Regions from separate parts of the Homo sapiens genome. Here region 2 is reported to be linked to region 1. Evidence: microRNA targets listed by miRTarBase, many of them from high-throughput screens and not tested one by one. Region 1 holds a microRNA gene; the other region holds the end of a gene's coding sequence. Distances are from middle to middle.

The links. The annotated mature microRNA hsa-miR-6734-5p reads UUGAGGGGAGAAUGAGGUGGAGA and lies in region 1 at 2,679-2,701, opposite strand. An mRNA with a match to its seed (bases 2 to 7 or 8) in the 3' UTR can be bound and repressed. Matches are read on the target gene's strand: a 7mer-m8 pairs with bases 2 to 8, a 7mer-A1 pairs with bases 2 to 7 and ends in A, and an 8mer does both.
Region 2: the mRNA of NOS1AP is a reported target of hsa-miR-6734-5p. Seed matches in the 3' UTR shown: 7mer-m8 at 5,516-5,522 and 7mer-m8 at 5,049-5,055.

Annotation. Positions count from the first base shown.
Region 1 is chr1:43,362,010-43,369,126 of GRCh38, forward strand. It overlaps MIR6734 (microRNA 6734), which reads right to left and starts at 2,706; the gene lies at 2,639-2,706. CDC20 (cell division cycle 20) reads left to right here. Exons shown (of 11, transcript NM_001255.3): 10 at 186-303; 11 at 942-1,194. The coding sequence ends at 1,120. ELOVL1 (ELOVL fatty acid elongase 1) reads right to left here and starts at 6,002. Exons shown (of 8, transcript NM_022821.4): 1 at 5,906-6,002; 2 at 3,555-3,614; 3 at 3,177-3,367; 4 at 2,919-2,999; 5 at 2,729-2,785; 6 at 2,533-2,638; 7 at 2,315-2,451; 8 at 1,392-2,128. The coding sequence starts at 3,600. The coding sequence ends at 1,907. LOC112268225 (a long non-coding RNA gene) reads left to right here and starts at 6,203. Exons shown (of 2, transcript XR_007066049.1): 1 at 6,203-7,117. RefSeq lists silencers at 4,302-4,391, 5,652-6,331 and enhancers at 4,709-5,443, 5,444-6,178, 6,772-6,851.
Region 2 is chr1:162,366,238-162,373,354 of GRCh38, reverse strand. It overlaps NOS1AP (nitric oxide synthase 1 adaptor protein), which reads right to left. Exons shown (of 10, transcript NM_014697.3): 10 at 2,880-6,303. The coding sequence ends at 5,888. It overlaps SPATA46 (spermatogenesis associated 46), which reads left to right. Exons shown (of 3, transcript NM_182581.4): 3 at 1-152. Among named protein-coding and RNA genes, the nearest start is that of SPATA46, 7.1 kb to the left of the region's middle. RefSeq lists an enhancer at 5,653-6,152.

The DNA.
Region 1 (7,117 bases):
AAAGGTAAAAAATGGTTACATCAGCGAGTGTCTATAATTTGCCTCTCAAGGAACTTTTGTATGGACTATGATCATTCAACTCTGAGTCTGGAGCATGTGGCAGGGTGCCTAACACTAGAATGGGCTCAGTTCTGATTTAAGTAGCCTTGGCTATATGTCATGCCCACACCAGCTCCTCTCCACAGGTGTGCTCCATCCTCTGGTCTCCCCATTACAAGGAGCTCATCTCAGGCCATGGCTTTGCACAGAACCAGCTAGTTATTTGGAAGTACCCAACCATGGCCAAGGTGGCTGAACTCAAAGGTAAGTGGCTAGGTGAAAAGCCGGACATAAAAGGCCACATAATGTATGACTGAAATGTCCAGAATAAGCAAATCCAGAGAAAAAACACATTAATGGTTGCCAGGGGCTGAGAGAGGGTAATGGGAAATGTTGAAAATGTCTTAGAATTAGTTTTAACAGTTGTACAATTTTGTGAATATACTAAAAATCACTAAACTGTACACTTTAAAAGGATGCATTTTATGGTGTGTGAATTATATCTCAGTAACACCATTGAAAAAAAAGGGAGGAGGCCAGGCACGGTGGCTCACGCCTGTAATCCCAGCACTTTGGGAGGCTGAGGCGGGCAGATCATGAGGTCAGGAGATAGAGACAATCCTGGCTAACATGGTGAAGCCCTGTCTCTACTAAAAAACACAAAAAATTAGCCAGGCGTGGTGGCAAGCACCTGTAGTCCCAGCTACTCGGGAGGCTGAGGCAGGAAAATGGCATGAACCCAGGAGGCGGAGCTTGCAGTGAGCCAAGATTGCGCCACTGCACTCCAGCCTGGGTGACAGAGCAAGTCTCAAAAAAAACAAAAAGGTAGGTGGGTGGCCCAGTGCCTCCTTTATGGCTATGGCTGCATCAGCATTCGTATGTACTGTTCTCATTTGCTCCAGGTCACACATCCCGGGTCCTGAGTCTGACCATGAGCCCAGATGGGGCCACAGTGGCATCCGCAGCAGCAGATGAGACCCTGAGGCTATGGCGCTGTTTTGAGTTGGACCCTGCGCGGCGGCGGGAGCGGGAGAAGGCCAGTGCAGCCAAAAGCAGCCTCATCCACCAAGGCATCCGCTGAAGACCAACCCATCACCTCAGTTGTTTTTTATTTTTCTAATAAAGTCATGTCTCCCTTCATGTTTTTTTTTTAAATCTGTTTCAGCTAATGCCTTTCTTCTTTCATGACCTATGTCCCAGCAGCCTTCCTAGGGGCTCTACTCTACTGGGATCAGAGAGCTAGATATGTCCTGTGGGAGCCTGGACCATCCATCCCTCTTGTTTGTGGACAGGGCTAAGCGTGTTGTGTTCCCCCACCTCCTCTGTTCACATACGTATACACACAGCCTCCGTGGTTTCCTCTGTCACTTTTAATTAAGACACAAGTTGAGTAAGCAGCCTCCACAGGCTGTATTCCCAGGCCCCCGCCCACCCTGACCTTTGGCCCAGAAGCTACTGCTTCAGTGTGTGGGGTGGAGGAGTGAGACTGGGTCCACAGTGACATTATTGCTGACCTCTTCTGTGTGAGGAAAAAGGCCACGAGACCCTTTGTGGGGCCAGCCCTGAGTGCTCCTCTCCCAAGTTTTAAGGCAGGGAGGGGGAAATAACTGTACAGCCCTTTTAGCCCCCAGCTCTGGAGTGGCAGACAGCAATGAGGCCACATCCCTGGAGCTGCCCGGGGGAAGTGGGTGAGGAACCAAAGCCGTGGTCCCTGTAGAGCAGCTGTGGGGAGGGGAGGGCCAGTCCCCTGCTCAGTCCTGACCACATAAGCCTTGGTCACAGGTGTAGGTGGAGAGGGCACTGACGGACACTGCCCTAAGGTGCAGTCCTGAGGCACTTAGGTGGGCGCCTATCTAGGCCATGCTTCTCAGTTGGCCTTGACCTTGGCAATACCTGGAGCTCCATTTTGCTGAAGTGCACGGGGCAGCCGCTTGCCCTTGGTATAAGAGTGATACCAGAAGTTGGAGAACAGCATGAAGAAGATGGTGCCATACATCCAGATGAGGTGAATAATGACTGGGTACTGGTAGTTACAGCTGGACATAAAGTAGTACTGGGAGATGTGCAGTGAGACCAGGACAAACTGGATCTAGGATAGAGAAAGACCAGGGTCAGAGGGAATAGTGAGAGGACTAGAGGGGAAGAGGGGGTAGAGAAAGAGACAAACGTTGAGTAGGGAGAGATGGGGTCAAAGGTGAGACAGACTGGATAAAGGCAGGATCCAGGCTAGGAATGTGGGGGGATGGTTATAGGTAAGTCAGGCCAAGCCCCTCACCAGCTGAATGGCTGTCATGTGCTTTTTCCACCAAAGGTAGGGTTGTGCCACAGGGCCAAAGGCAGATAATCCGTAGTACAGGTACATTATGACATGCACGGAAGAGTTTATCATGGCATGGAAAGAGCCCATTCCTCCTGTGAGTGGACAATAAGACAGGGTCAGCAGAGTCCAGCCTCTGGTGCCCACCCTTTCCCATAGTGGCCTTCACCACTCACCCGGGGCAATCTTTACCCCCCACCACCAGCTCCAGGGAAGCACAGAGTGATGGAAGACATGTAGGAAGGTCACCTGCCCGTCTTTCTTTCGGAGAATAAAGATCACCTGAGAGAAGAGTGAGGGAAGGGGATTCAGAACCTGGGCTTCTCCACCTCATTCTCCCCTCAAGTTCTCACATCTCATATAACTACTCACTGTGTCCATCAGCTCAATGAACTTGGAGAAGAGGAAGAGCCAGGCCACCCGAACCATCTGCAAGAAGTTGGGATAGCCTTAGGACCTCATACACTATTCTAAGAGCCTCCCTAAACTGGGCCTTGAGCACAGGCCCCAAACTGGTCATATCTACCAGGTTGCTTATGACCTAGCCCCAGCCCCTACTTACCCTAAGTGCCTCAGGGCTGTTGGAATAGTCCACAGGGTCACAGCGCCAGGTATAGGTGCTCAGCCAGCCCGACATCAGGAACTGGGAAGGGATGTGGATTAGACCACCAGAGTTCTCCCTTCCCAGCCATCCCTCCCCTTCGCTAGCTGAGGACATGGATCTGAACCTCTCTGGAAAGGAGAAATGCCATGCTCTGGCTCTATGGCCTGCTCCTTATCCTGCTGACAGAAATTAAAGCCCGGCATCCCAGGGGCCCACCTCATAGACAATGTAGAGGGAGAGTGCCACCAGTGAGAAGTTGTAGACAATCATGAAGCCACGGAGCTGGAAGGGCTTCCGATTAGCCATGATGCGAGGCCCAAGTGAGAGAACGAAGTACACGTAGGTCAGGAGAATGGAGGTCATTAGCAAGGGGGACCCCATCAGAGGGTAGCCCTGGATCCGGGGATCTATGAATAAGGGTCAAAGGAATCAGGAAGAGTCACAGGGTTCGAAGGGTCTTCATTTGAAGGGTCTACAGACATGAGGTCAGGTCACAGGATCAAGGGTTTCATAGGAACTCTCCATTAGAAGACAGCCGTAGATCCAGGGATCCCGGGAAAGAAGGAAGGAAAGGGCTGGTGGATAGCGTCTTACCTGCGTGCTTCATCACCTCTTGGTACAAGTTCACAACAGCCTCCATCCTGGCTAAGGACTCTGGGGAGGTACAGAGGGCGGATGTCAGACAGATCCCACTGCACACCCCCATCCCACAGAGATAAGACACAGAACCAGACAAGACACCTGCAATGCCTCATTGCAGAAAGGACAGAACAGTGAAAGGAAGGAATTACTGGGAACTAGGGGGAGGAGGCAGTTTGGTTGAGGCATCTGCTCCCCACACATCCTGCTTGCCTGGGAAGAGCTGTTCCACCCTTCCTCTCCACACCTTACTCTCCTCTCCTCTCCACAGTTTTACTTCCTGGCCTCCCTTCCCCTCTTCCTCCACAAGATAACTCTCAATTCCAGGTCTCTTACTGGAGAATCTTACCTTCTCACCAACAGGGAGCTCTTGAACTCCGTCTCCCTTCCTCACCCGAGTCCCTCACCTCCCCAGCTCTGGGTCTTTCTTCTCTCCAGGGATTCTCCCCTTCAATCTCTCCTCTCCTGCCCTCTCCTCTTCCCATCCCTCTGGACCCTTCCTGAACTCTCTTCTCCCCAGGGTCCCTCCTGTCCCTGCCAGGACTCTCACCTCTCTGGGCCCTTCTGTCCCTCCAGAACCTTATCCTCGGATTCCTCCTTGCCTGTGCTGGGACACTTATGTCCCTACGATTCTCCTCTGCCTTTCCTGGGACTCTCACCTCCAGCCTCTCCTCTCCAGCGCTCTCCTCTCTCCTCTCGCAGAGCCCTTCCTCTCCTGGAGCCTGGCTCTTTGAGACTCCTGCCCCGGCGGCTCCACCTGTCTGACTAGATCTGGCAGCAGCCCCGCCCTCTGCCCGCCCCTGCTGTACTGTGCAGGGGGTGGAGGGTGGGTCCGGGCCACAGGTCAGTGCCTGGGGGAGCAGGACCCACCAGGATTGGGAAAGCCAAGTAAAGCCCCAGACTCGCCACCCACCCACCCACGTGGGACCAGCCTGATGAGCTAAGGTCCTAGATTCTGAGCCAGAAACCTCCTCTGACCCCAGCCCCAGCCCCAGCCCTGGCCCAAAGCACTGCTGAAAATCCACACCCAGCATCCTCTCCTAAGCCGGCCATAACTGCTCAGTTTGTCCTACTTCAGAATGGGTACAATCACTCTTCCCTTCCTGGGAAGGGCAGGGAAGCCAGTGGCATGTGAAGGGGTTGGGGAGTGGGGGAGGTCGCAGGAATCTTCCCCTCCCTCAGGGAGGGGCCCCGTTGGGCTAGGCCCCCTCCCCCTCAGGGCCTGAAGGAATGTCGGGGGAAGGCTCCCAGGGACACAAAAGCCTCTGGCCAGACCCAGGAGAGCATGGTACTGACAGTCCCTGAGGGACAAGGCATTCTTGGAACAGAGCAGGGCCCAGGGCAGCAGGTGCCCCAGACTCCCTGCTTCCAGAGAAGCACCTCTGCAGATGCCAAGTGAAGAGGCGCACCTCTGACACCTCCCTGCCCCGCACACCCCTCACCTCCAGGAGGCCCGGCTTCTTTAGGCCCACCGTGGTCAGGCCCCAAGCCTGCGGTCCACACCCACCTCTCACCTAGCTCTCCACCCCCAACAGCGAAGGTGCCACGCCGAGGGCTGGCACACACGTCTCCTGCCTGACACACCACGCAACACCTCCGTGGGCTGACACGCATGGCTCCCGGCCCTCACGCAGCTCGGCCACCGCCCAGGCACACGCACGGGCTCACCCGCGGGGCCACTCACACACGTGTGCGCGCTGCCTGGCCACGCTCGGATCCCCTCCTTACTTGCTCCCCCACCATCGGGCTTGCTGGCCGCCCATCGCCGGCAGGGCCCAGGCCGGGGCGAGGGCGCCAACACAGGTTCCTCCCTGACACATGGGAGCCAGCCAGCCTGTTATCTCTCAACCACCAGCCCCCAATATCAACCCACACACCCGGCAGGCCAGGAGGGACCAAGGCTCCTGGGAGGACCTCTCCCCAAGCTGCAGGAAAATCTGGGTGTGTCTCTCGTCGGGGAACTCAGCCCGTCCCTTCCTTCCTTTAAGATGGATGGAAGGGAAAAGGTGCCTGGCAAAGTTAGGGTAGCGGGGGGAGGGAGGGGAGAGGAGGAGGGAGAGAGGTAAATGCAGGGGTGGTGGAGGAAGGCCCGGGTGTAGGCAAATGGGGGCCAGAGACGGGGGTGTGGGGGAGGGAGGGTGCTGGCGAGGCCCGGCCCCAGGGAGCTGGGACCTCCCACCCACTGGCCCCGGGAACACCCTCGCCCACAGCCTGGGCAGGGCAGGGCAGGGCTGGGCCGGGCTGGGCCGGGCTGGCCAGGCAGGGGGCGCCGGCACGTGGAGAGTCCGTGGAAGGTCCAGACTCACCCGTAGGGGCCAGGCGGGCAACGGCGGAGCGCTCGGAGGGAGCAGGGCCAGAGAGAAGTCCCCGGGGCCAGCCTGCCTGCCTGCCACTTCCTCATCTGCTGGGCCGACTTTCTGTCACCAGAGGGGGAGGGGCGGGCCGCGCGGGGGGCGCCCGCTGATTGGGCGGCCGGCAGGGCCGGAGGCCGGCAGCGCAGGCTCGGCCGGGGCGGGGGCAGGGGCGTGCCGCCGGGTCCCAGCAGGAAGCGCCGCGGCCCGGGCTTCCCACCCCTTCCCTCGCCGCCCGGGCCCGCCCTGGCCAGTTGCAGCGGCCTGGCCACCTCAGGAGCACGCTGTCTCTTCCCGACGTGCAGCCCGGGGCCCGGCCCTGTCCCCGGGTGACTGCTCCCCGGCAGGACTGCACATCTGTGGCGGCAGGCCCAGCTCAGGGCTCGGGGGAGGTTCGGCCTTGCCTTCAAAGAGCTCCCTCTCCTGCAGGGCGAGCGCAGAGCGGCGGGCGAGACCACACTGCGTGTGCTGAGGGCGCACTGGTCTTAGCGGGAGGGAAGCCTCACGAGCCTGTACACTTGGAGGAGCCCTAAGCGTTAGGATCTGCTGCGAGGGCTGCCTGGAACGGAGGTGAGAGGATACAAGTGGCCCGGGGCAAGCATAGTGAATCACTGGCTAATCTGGCCTTCGAGGTAGTGAAAGGAAAAAAGGGAAATGAAGCTGACTGTGGCTGAATGTAGTAGGTCTTGAAGGCCAAATGGGGCGATCTGATTTTTATTCTAGAAGCAGAGGAGAAACTAAAGATTTTTTTAGGAGACTATATTCAAGCTTGTATCATTAGTTCATCAGACGTTTATGGACCACCCACCGTCCGTGCACTCACGGGGCTTGCAGTCTATCTGGCTGAATCACTTTGGCAGCCAGTGTGAGGAGGGCACAGAAAGGAGACCAGGTGAGAAAGCCAGCCTGACCAAAGAAGATGTGGCAACTGATGGGATTGGAGGAGGCGGACAATGTCCTCCAGACAGCTGGACTGGCTCTCTATATATTTATTTATCTCTTCTACACCTCCAGCCCCCACCTCCACACTCACTAACTGGACTCAACTAGTGGGGGCAAAGGACAGACTAGATTTTAGTGAAATGGAATTTCTACCTCCAGCGGCCCCTGGAACAGTAGCACACAACGATCTAACAACTGCTTGTATGATTGGATGGTGTAAGTGCG
Region 2 (7,117 bases), 120 Mb from region 1:
GCAGGTAAACATGGGAACCTATTGCTTCCTGTTACCAAGTAATGTGTCCAGTGGGCAGCCCTGACTCTGCCTCCATTTCTGAGTGAACCTCCTGGTCCATCTGACCCAGAAAGATGGATAAGCATCAGGGATGCAGCAGAGACATCTATCTTGACTGTAATGTGGTTTTTAAAAAGCACCAAATGCTTGCTGGTCATCCTTTCAGGCCTCATTTACCTCTTGCTTTATCACCCTGATGACTCAGTAGCCCCTCCACTGCAGTGGGCACTGCCTTGCAGGGACCCTGGCACAAACCCCCGCCCTGGTCTTTGCCTCCCTCAGGGCTTGGCCAGCAGGTGGTGTGGAGGGTCCTCCCTCACCTCCCAAAGGCTTTTCCTCCAGAGTCTTATCTGTGGCTTAGCAGAGCTGCTCTGCTTATCAGTGTGCTGCTAAAACCTCATTTGTGGTCGTTCCCCACAGAGTGGGAGGGAGGCTGGGCTCGATCCCCATCGCATCATGTGCTGTGAGACCACTGCGGCCCTGTGCCCTCGAGCCATGCTTCTCACCCCATTCTGTCCCCAACCCCACCCAGCCTGCATCCCAAAGTCCAATTGACTGCCAGGCTCCAGCTGGGCTGGGATCCAGGACAAGGTCACAACCTATCCAGTCCAGTGTGCAGAGGTCTCCAGGCAGCCCTGACATCACTCCCAGGACCCTGTGCCCTGAAAGGGCAGATGAGTGGCTCTGGGCAATCTTTTTAATCCTCACTCCGAGCTACTGTTGTCTCTGTCCTTTGCCAACCCCATGCTCCCTTCTCTATGGCATCTGTACAACAGGCATAGAACATATCACGAGAAGGAAAACAAGCAGGCCAGGGACTGAGCCCAGGTGCCATGGCACGTGCCCATCCCGCCTGCCAGGTGCTCGTGGTTAGTGTCTTCTCCCTAAAGACAGGGCGTTTTTCACATTCCACATTTAATGTTGTATCAATGTAACCCCAGGAATTTTCTCAGTACAGAGCTAAGTTTTAGCAGAGCAGGAAAGAGCACCCAGCACTGTACTGAGCAGCACAGGTGCAGGCAGAAGGAAGCTCCCTAAAAGGGAAATTGTTCTGTACCCTGGGTCACTGCCAGGCACTCTCTACTGGGTGCTTTTAAAATACAATCTCATTTACTTTCCATAGTAGCTTTGTGTGGTTTATACTATCCCCATTTTCGAGATGAGAATACAAAACTCAGTTCAGTTCACTTAGCCAGAAAAGAACAGAGAGCATGTGAACCCAGTTGATCTAACCTTTTCAACTTTCTCTCTAGCCTGGGCCTGACGAAGCCATCAGGCCTAACACATCCTCTGCCTGCAAAATGGCTAAAAGTTCCAGCCAAAGTGACCTGGCTTTTCTAAAGTCTGTTCTGTGTGATCCCACAGCTCCTCATTCCTCAAACACTCCCTCCTTTACCAGGCTCCTCTGCCCTTTCATTTGTACTCCTTGCAGGGAAGCCTACATTCCCATGAATCAGGACTTCTGTGCTGAGCTGTGTCATAGTGATACCATGATCCCCGCCGAGGTAGGTATGAGGAGGAGCCAGTTTTGTCCCCAGTATGAACATTTCTGGAATGGGCCTATTCAGACTTCTACCAACTACATATTTCAGGCATTTAGTCATGAAGTCCGTGAAATAGTATAATCTTTTTTTTTTTCTTTTCCTTGAGACAGGGTCTCGCTCTATCATCAAGGCTGGAGCGTGCAGTGGCATGATCTCGGCTCACTGCAACCTCCGCCTCCCAGGCTGAAGCCATCCTCCCACCTCAGCCTCCCAAGTAGCTTGGACCACAGCCACTCACCACCATGCGTGGCTAATTTTTATGTTTTTTTTTTTTTAGTAACGGTCTTTCCCCATGTTGCCCAGGTTGATTCAAACTCCTGAGCACAAGCGATCCACCTGCCTCGGCCTCCCAAAGTGCTGGGATTACTGGCATGAGCTGAATAATCTTGTTTATACAATTACACAGTTATATTGGCAAATATCTATGATGTAGTAATTTTTCAAGCACTCAGAACTTGATGCTGGCCAGGTGTGGTGGCTCATGCCTGCAATCCCAGCACTTTGGGAGGCCAAGGTGGGAGAATTGCTTGAGCTCAAGAGTTTGAAACCAGCCCGGACAACATGGCGAAACCCGTCTCTACAAAAAATAGAAAAATTAGCTGGGTGTGGTGGCACACACCTGTAGTCCTGCTACTCAGGAGGCTGAAGTGGGAGGATCATGGAGCCCAGGGAGGTCAGGGCTGCAGTGAGCCATGATCATGCACTCCAGCCTGGGCGACAGAGTGAGACCCTGCCTTAAAAACACCTGAAAAACAAAAAGCCCTGAAACCCAAAACCAAAAAAACCAACTGGCTGCTACTACCCACATATTCTAATGATATTTGGAGTTTGAAAAAACCTGGGATTGGCAGAGTCGGCAAAAATGGGTGTAGACGAGTTTCCCAATCTCAGGACTACTGACATTTGGGGCTGGATGATTCTTTGTTGTGGGGGGCTGTCCTGTGCATTGTAGGATATTGATCAGTATCCCTGGCTTCACTCACTACATGCCAGTAGCTTTGTGACAACCAAAAACATTTCTAGACATTGTCAGATGTCCCCTGGTGAGGAAAAATCAGGCCTAGTTAAGAACCACTGATACCTCTGATCCCGCAGGGCTGATCTATATAAAGTGCAAATGAAGCCACCATCTTCCTCTCCTCCTACAGGGAACTTGTGAATCTTTCCTCAATCCCATACCCTTGGGAACCATCTCACAGAGCTGATGCCACTTGGCTTGGGAAGTGGGGTGGAAGTGAGGGGGAGAGAAGGAGCAGGTGGAATAGAAGCAGCAAGAAAAGACAATGGAAAAGCTTCTAGAAATAAGAAAGGTTTATTTAGCAAAAGCCACTAGACTAGTGACAACATCCAGGGAGTAAGTGCACTTACATTAACAGAATCTTTTCCCAGAGAGTTGATCCAACAGAGTTAATGACACAACAGCTTTAGGAAGTAGAGTGCTAGTGGGTAGAGGGTTAGGAGGAAGCAGTCAAGCAAAGAGTAAATAAAAGGAATACAACGCCTAAACAAGATCAGTTGAGAGAAATGAGGCTAGGAAGAGGTTTTACAGAGAGAGCATTGATATAAGCAGGAATATAAGGAATATAATTTTTAATCTCAATATACAGTCCATCCAGTGCAGAGAAATTCTTTCCTGGCTCCATAACTGTGGGAGCCTCCTGTGCACGAGAGTCTGCTGGCACCTGGGGTAGGCTGGGGCAGGCACCAATAAGGTTAGCACCCCTGGTGTCCATTTGTCCTCCATATAGGGCAGAGTAGAAGAATGAAAAAGAGGAAGGCAGAGTTGAGTTAGCAGAGCAAGAAGCAAGGAGGGAGGACAGGGTGACATCGTCGGGAAATCAGGTCTGCAATGTTCCCTTTCCTGCCCAGTTGGCCCTGATGGAGGGTCGGTGGCTGGTGATCCTTCAAGGCTCCTAGATCTGTCCTTTGTCTCCCATCTCCACACACCAAGTATGCGCTGGTTTGGGTCCACTGGGGAGGATACCAATACACAAACTAGTCCTCCAGGGAGGGCCTGAACTGGGGAAAGGGTGGCGCCCAGGCAGGAAGAAACCACCATGGAACACCCCAAGGGCAGGAGTCTTGGATGGGTCCCAAAGTCAGCAACACAGATAACTAGTTTCTCCAATTCTTTAATTTCTCCATTTCCTTTCGTCTATCCAATCTCAAGTTTTTACAGGCCATTTAGAAGCGGCCTTCCTCACCCACTCCCTGGCCACATCCCACACAAGCCCTCTCCATCCACATTCCATACACCTAATCCACTGGCCTCTGGCTTTATCCTCAGCTCCGGCTTACGTCAGAAAACAGACTTTTCACTCCTCTGGACGTTCAAAATCTTAATAATCTAAGTGGTCTTGGACTCAGGGAACCCTGGGTTAGATTTCATAAGCTAGGTAGGCTCAGCCACACTGGATTCTGACAGCTGCTCATTTAGTTTCATGGATCTCACTTTCCTGGTTCTTCCTTCTCTGTGTAACTGTACCTATTTCCAATGGCAAATTAGATCAAAACAAAACAAACAGAACCATGCCTCTCCAACTAAATGCATGTTAGAAAACACAAATCTGTTGCTGATTCAAACACCCTGGAGATCCTCGTTCTTTTCCGTCTGGTTACAATCCTACATATATGTACACACTTTCCCTCACACATGTATATATAAACACATGTGTACACACACACACAAAACACACACACACACACCACCTGATCCTATTTCCACTGACACCCTGATGCACCAAGGAAGGCTAACATAAAACTGAATTTATTTCCTTTAATTTGGACTTTCTGGGCTACAAGAAAACCAACTGTGGCCATTAGAAGAGGACTGCACTTTTATTTATATATAATCTAAAGGAAAGCTAGGGTCGATGAACTCCATTTTGGGATAATCATATCCTTGCCGATTGACCCTCCAATAACACTGCAGTTTGCATCTGTACCTTGTTGTCTAGGATAAAGACTTAATTCCCCGAACATATGACTCTAGCAGGTCTCAGCAATCTCTTCAGGCATTTGAAAATCTGTTAACAGCCACTTATGGCCTTACAGGAGCAAAGGAGCTTTTCCTCATTGCCCCAGCCAGCCCGTTAAGGAGTAGTGATCCCTAGGCAAAGCCTAGATCATAAAAGATAAGACAATTGCACATGGCACTTTTTATATGTGTGCTCAAGGCACGCACGCAGAGAGATGGGCCAAGGGTGGCAATGGCTGTGGTCCCTGACCCAAGTGGCAGTGATTCAGAAGAGTGGACAAAAACAGTCTCACAGTCTCAGCTATCAGCTTGCATTCATTCTTTTTTTTCTTTCTCTTTTTTCTTTTTTTTTTTTTGCAGTAAAAACTGACCACCACTGCCCAGTGGAGGGGACAGGTTGAGAGGTAAGGCTGGGGGCTCTGGTCCTCTGGGGCTTTCAGAGAGGTAAAGTGCTGCAAAAGCTTCAGCTGGACAGGACACAGGGGAGGTGAGGGGCAATTCCCAGCTTCCATTTAGATGGGCTGGGCTACAGGCAGGAGGAAGGCAGGGCAGGACTTTCAAAACAGGAATCAGATCTAAGTGATTTGGAGCAGCAGACAAGCTGTCCTCCCCCTGGGCTCTCACACCAAGGGCCTGAACCATGTTAAAGCTTCAAGGCTCCCTTTGTAGCAACATTCAATGTCCGGCTGGAGAAAATGTTTGGATTCAGTTCCTCTAAAAGCTTATCCACTGTGACACATTCCAATTCCATGCTCACCCTACAAGGACTAGCCTGGCTTTTGCGGTCCAGAGCACTCAATCTCTACAATCTCAGCAAGGGCCTGGAGAAGGAATTCCTCTCATAAAGGTAGGGGGAGGGTTAGGCAACTCGCAGCATCGTGATATCCAGAAACAAAGTACCTGAGAAGGTACCGATGGCTTCCCTTCCTGGTCGGGACCATGGAGACGGGGAGAGTGAGGGGGTAGGGGGGCATCACGGACAAAGCGTGGGAGCCTGACGATGCAGCAGGTAGGGGCAGGTCCTCCAGCAGCCTGGCAGTCCTGGAGAGAGACCCTCTCCTGAAGCCATGGGCTCTGGAAGGCCTTACCTCCACCACCCTCTAGTCACAAGTAGGAGAGGAGCTGATTCACCTCTGGGAATCCGATTTCTTCCCCACTTTACCCTCCAAAGCAGAATCTCAATACTTTCCTGAAACCTCACACTCTCCCGGGCCCTGGCTGGCATTCTCCTCGGCAGTGCACATTCACTGGGCATCCCCTACCCGGGCAGCAGCCAGACACGGCCCCTCCAGCCACGCCGCCGCCTCCATCTCCTCGCCCTCGGCACCTACACGGCGATCTCATCATCCAGGCCGTCGCCCAGTTCCTGCCTCTGCAGGACATTCAGCAGGCGCGGCAGCTCCTCCTGGGACCACGAGTCGCGCTCCTCGCTCTCGTCCGTGTTGGACTCGTACTCCGAGGCGATGCCTGACTCTCGGAACTTGATGAGCTCCAGACCGCCCAGGAGCGCCTCGCCCTGCGCTGGGGGCGGGGTGTCCTCGGGCGGAAGAAAGCGAAAGCACTCCAGCTTCACCAAGCAGTCGCGCCTACCTAAGGGGCTGCCCGCAGGGTGGGCAAAGTCAGCCAAGCCCGCGCCCAGCGGCGGCGAATGCAGGTCCTCTGGCTTAGGGGTCGTGGGGTCACAGAGCACGGGCAGGGCTCCGGAGCGGAAGGTGATCTCCAGCAAGCTGTCCTGGGAGCCCACTGCAGGGGAGACAAGAGGTAGCAGAGGGGCAGCGTTAGGCAAGGTTGTTGATTTGGGATGCCCGCCTTCTGCCCGCCCGTGCCCTGCCAAAGCCCTTCCCAGACCAGCTTAGCAGCACCTCTCCGGGCTTTGGGTCTCTTAACACTTCACCCTTCCTCCCGCCCCCACATAGCTCCAGACACACCTCGCTGGAGGGGAGGAGCTTTGGGACGTGGTAAAGGCGGGGACATAAGAACCATATGATGGTTCTGGTAGCCACTGAAGGCTCTGAATAGGGTTAGTGGTAGGAAAAAGGTACCAATTGAGAGAACCATGTTAGAAGCCTGTGGTAACCTTTAGTACAATCATGTAAATAAGCATTAATTAGGATAGAGCAGAGTTTCAATGAACAATCTGGAAAATCCAGAGAGGCTTCCAGAGTGGTGAAGGGCACTGGTTTCCAATCCACACCTCTGGGCTACTTTAAAAATACAGGCTCCCAGACCAGCCCTAGACAGAACGATGTAGGATCTCAGTAGGAAAGACGCATTTTTAAAAGAGCTCATGGGATGGTTTGGGGGAACCACTGGTATAGTTGGAACAAAATTTTGCAATCAGATCTAGGTTTGAATCTTGGCTCTGCTCCTTGCTAGGCCTATAACCTTGAGCTAGTTACTTAACCTCCCTGAGTCTGTTACCTCATCTGTAAAATGGCATCCCATTTTTCTGCAGCAGAACTACAGGGATTAAATGAGCTCACAGGCAAAAAATTCTATCACAGTTTCTGGCACAATATGTGATCAATGGCTATTTGCTGGTCCACAGCCCACACAC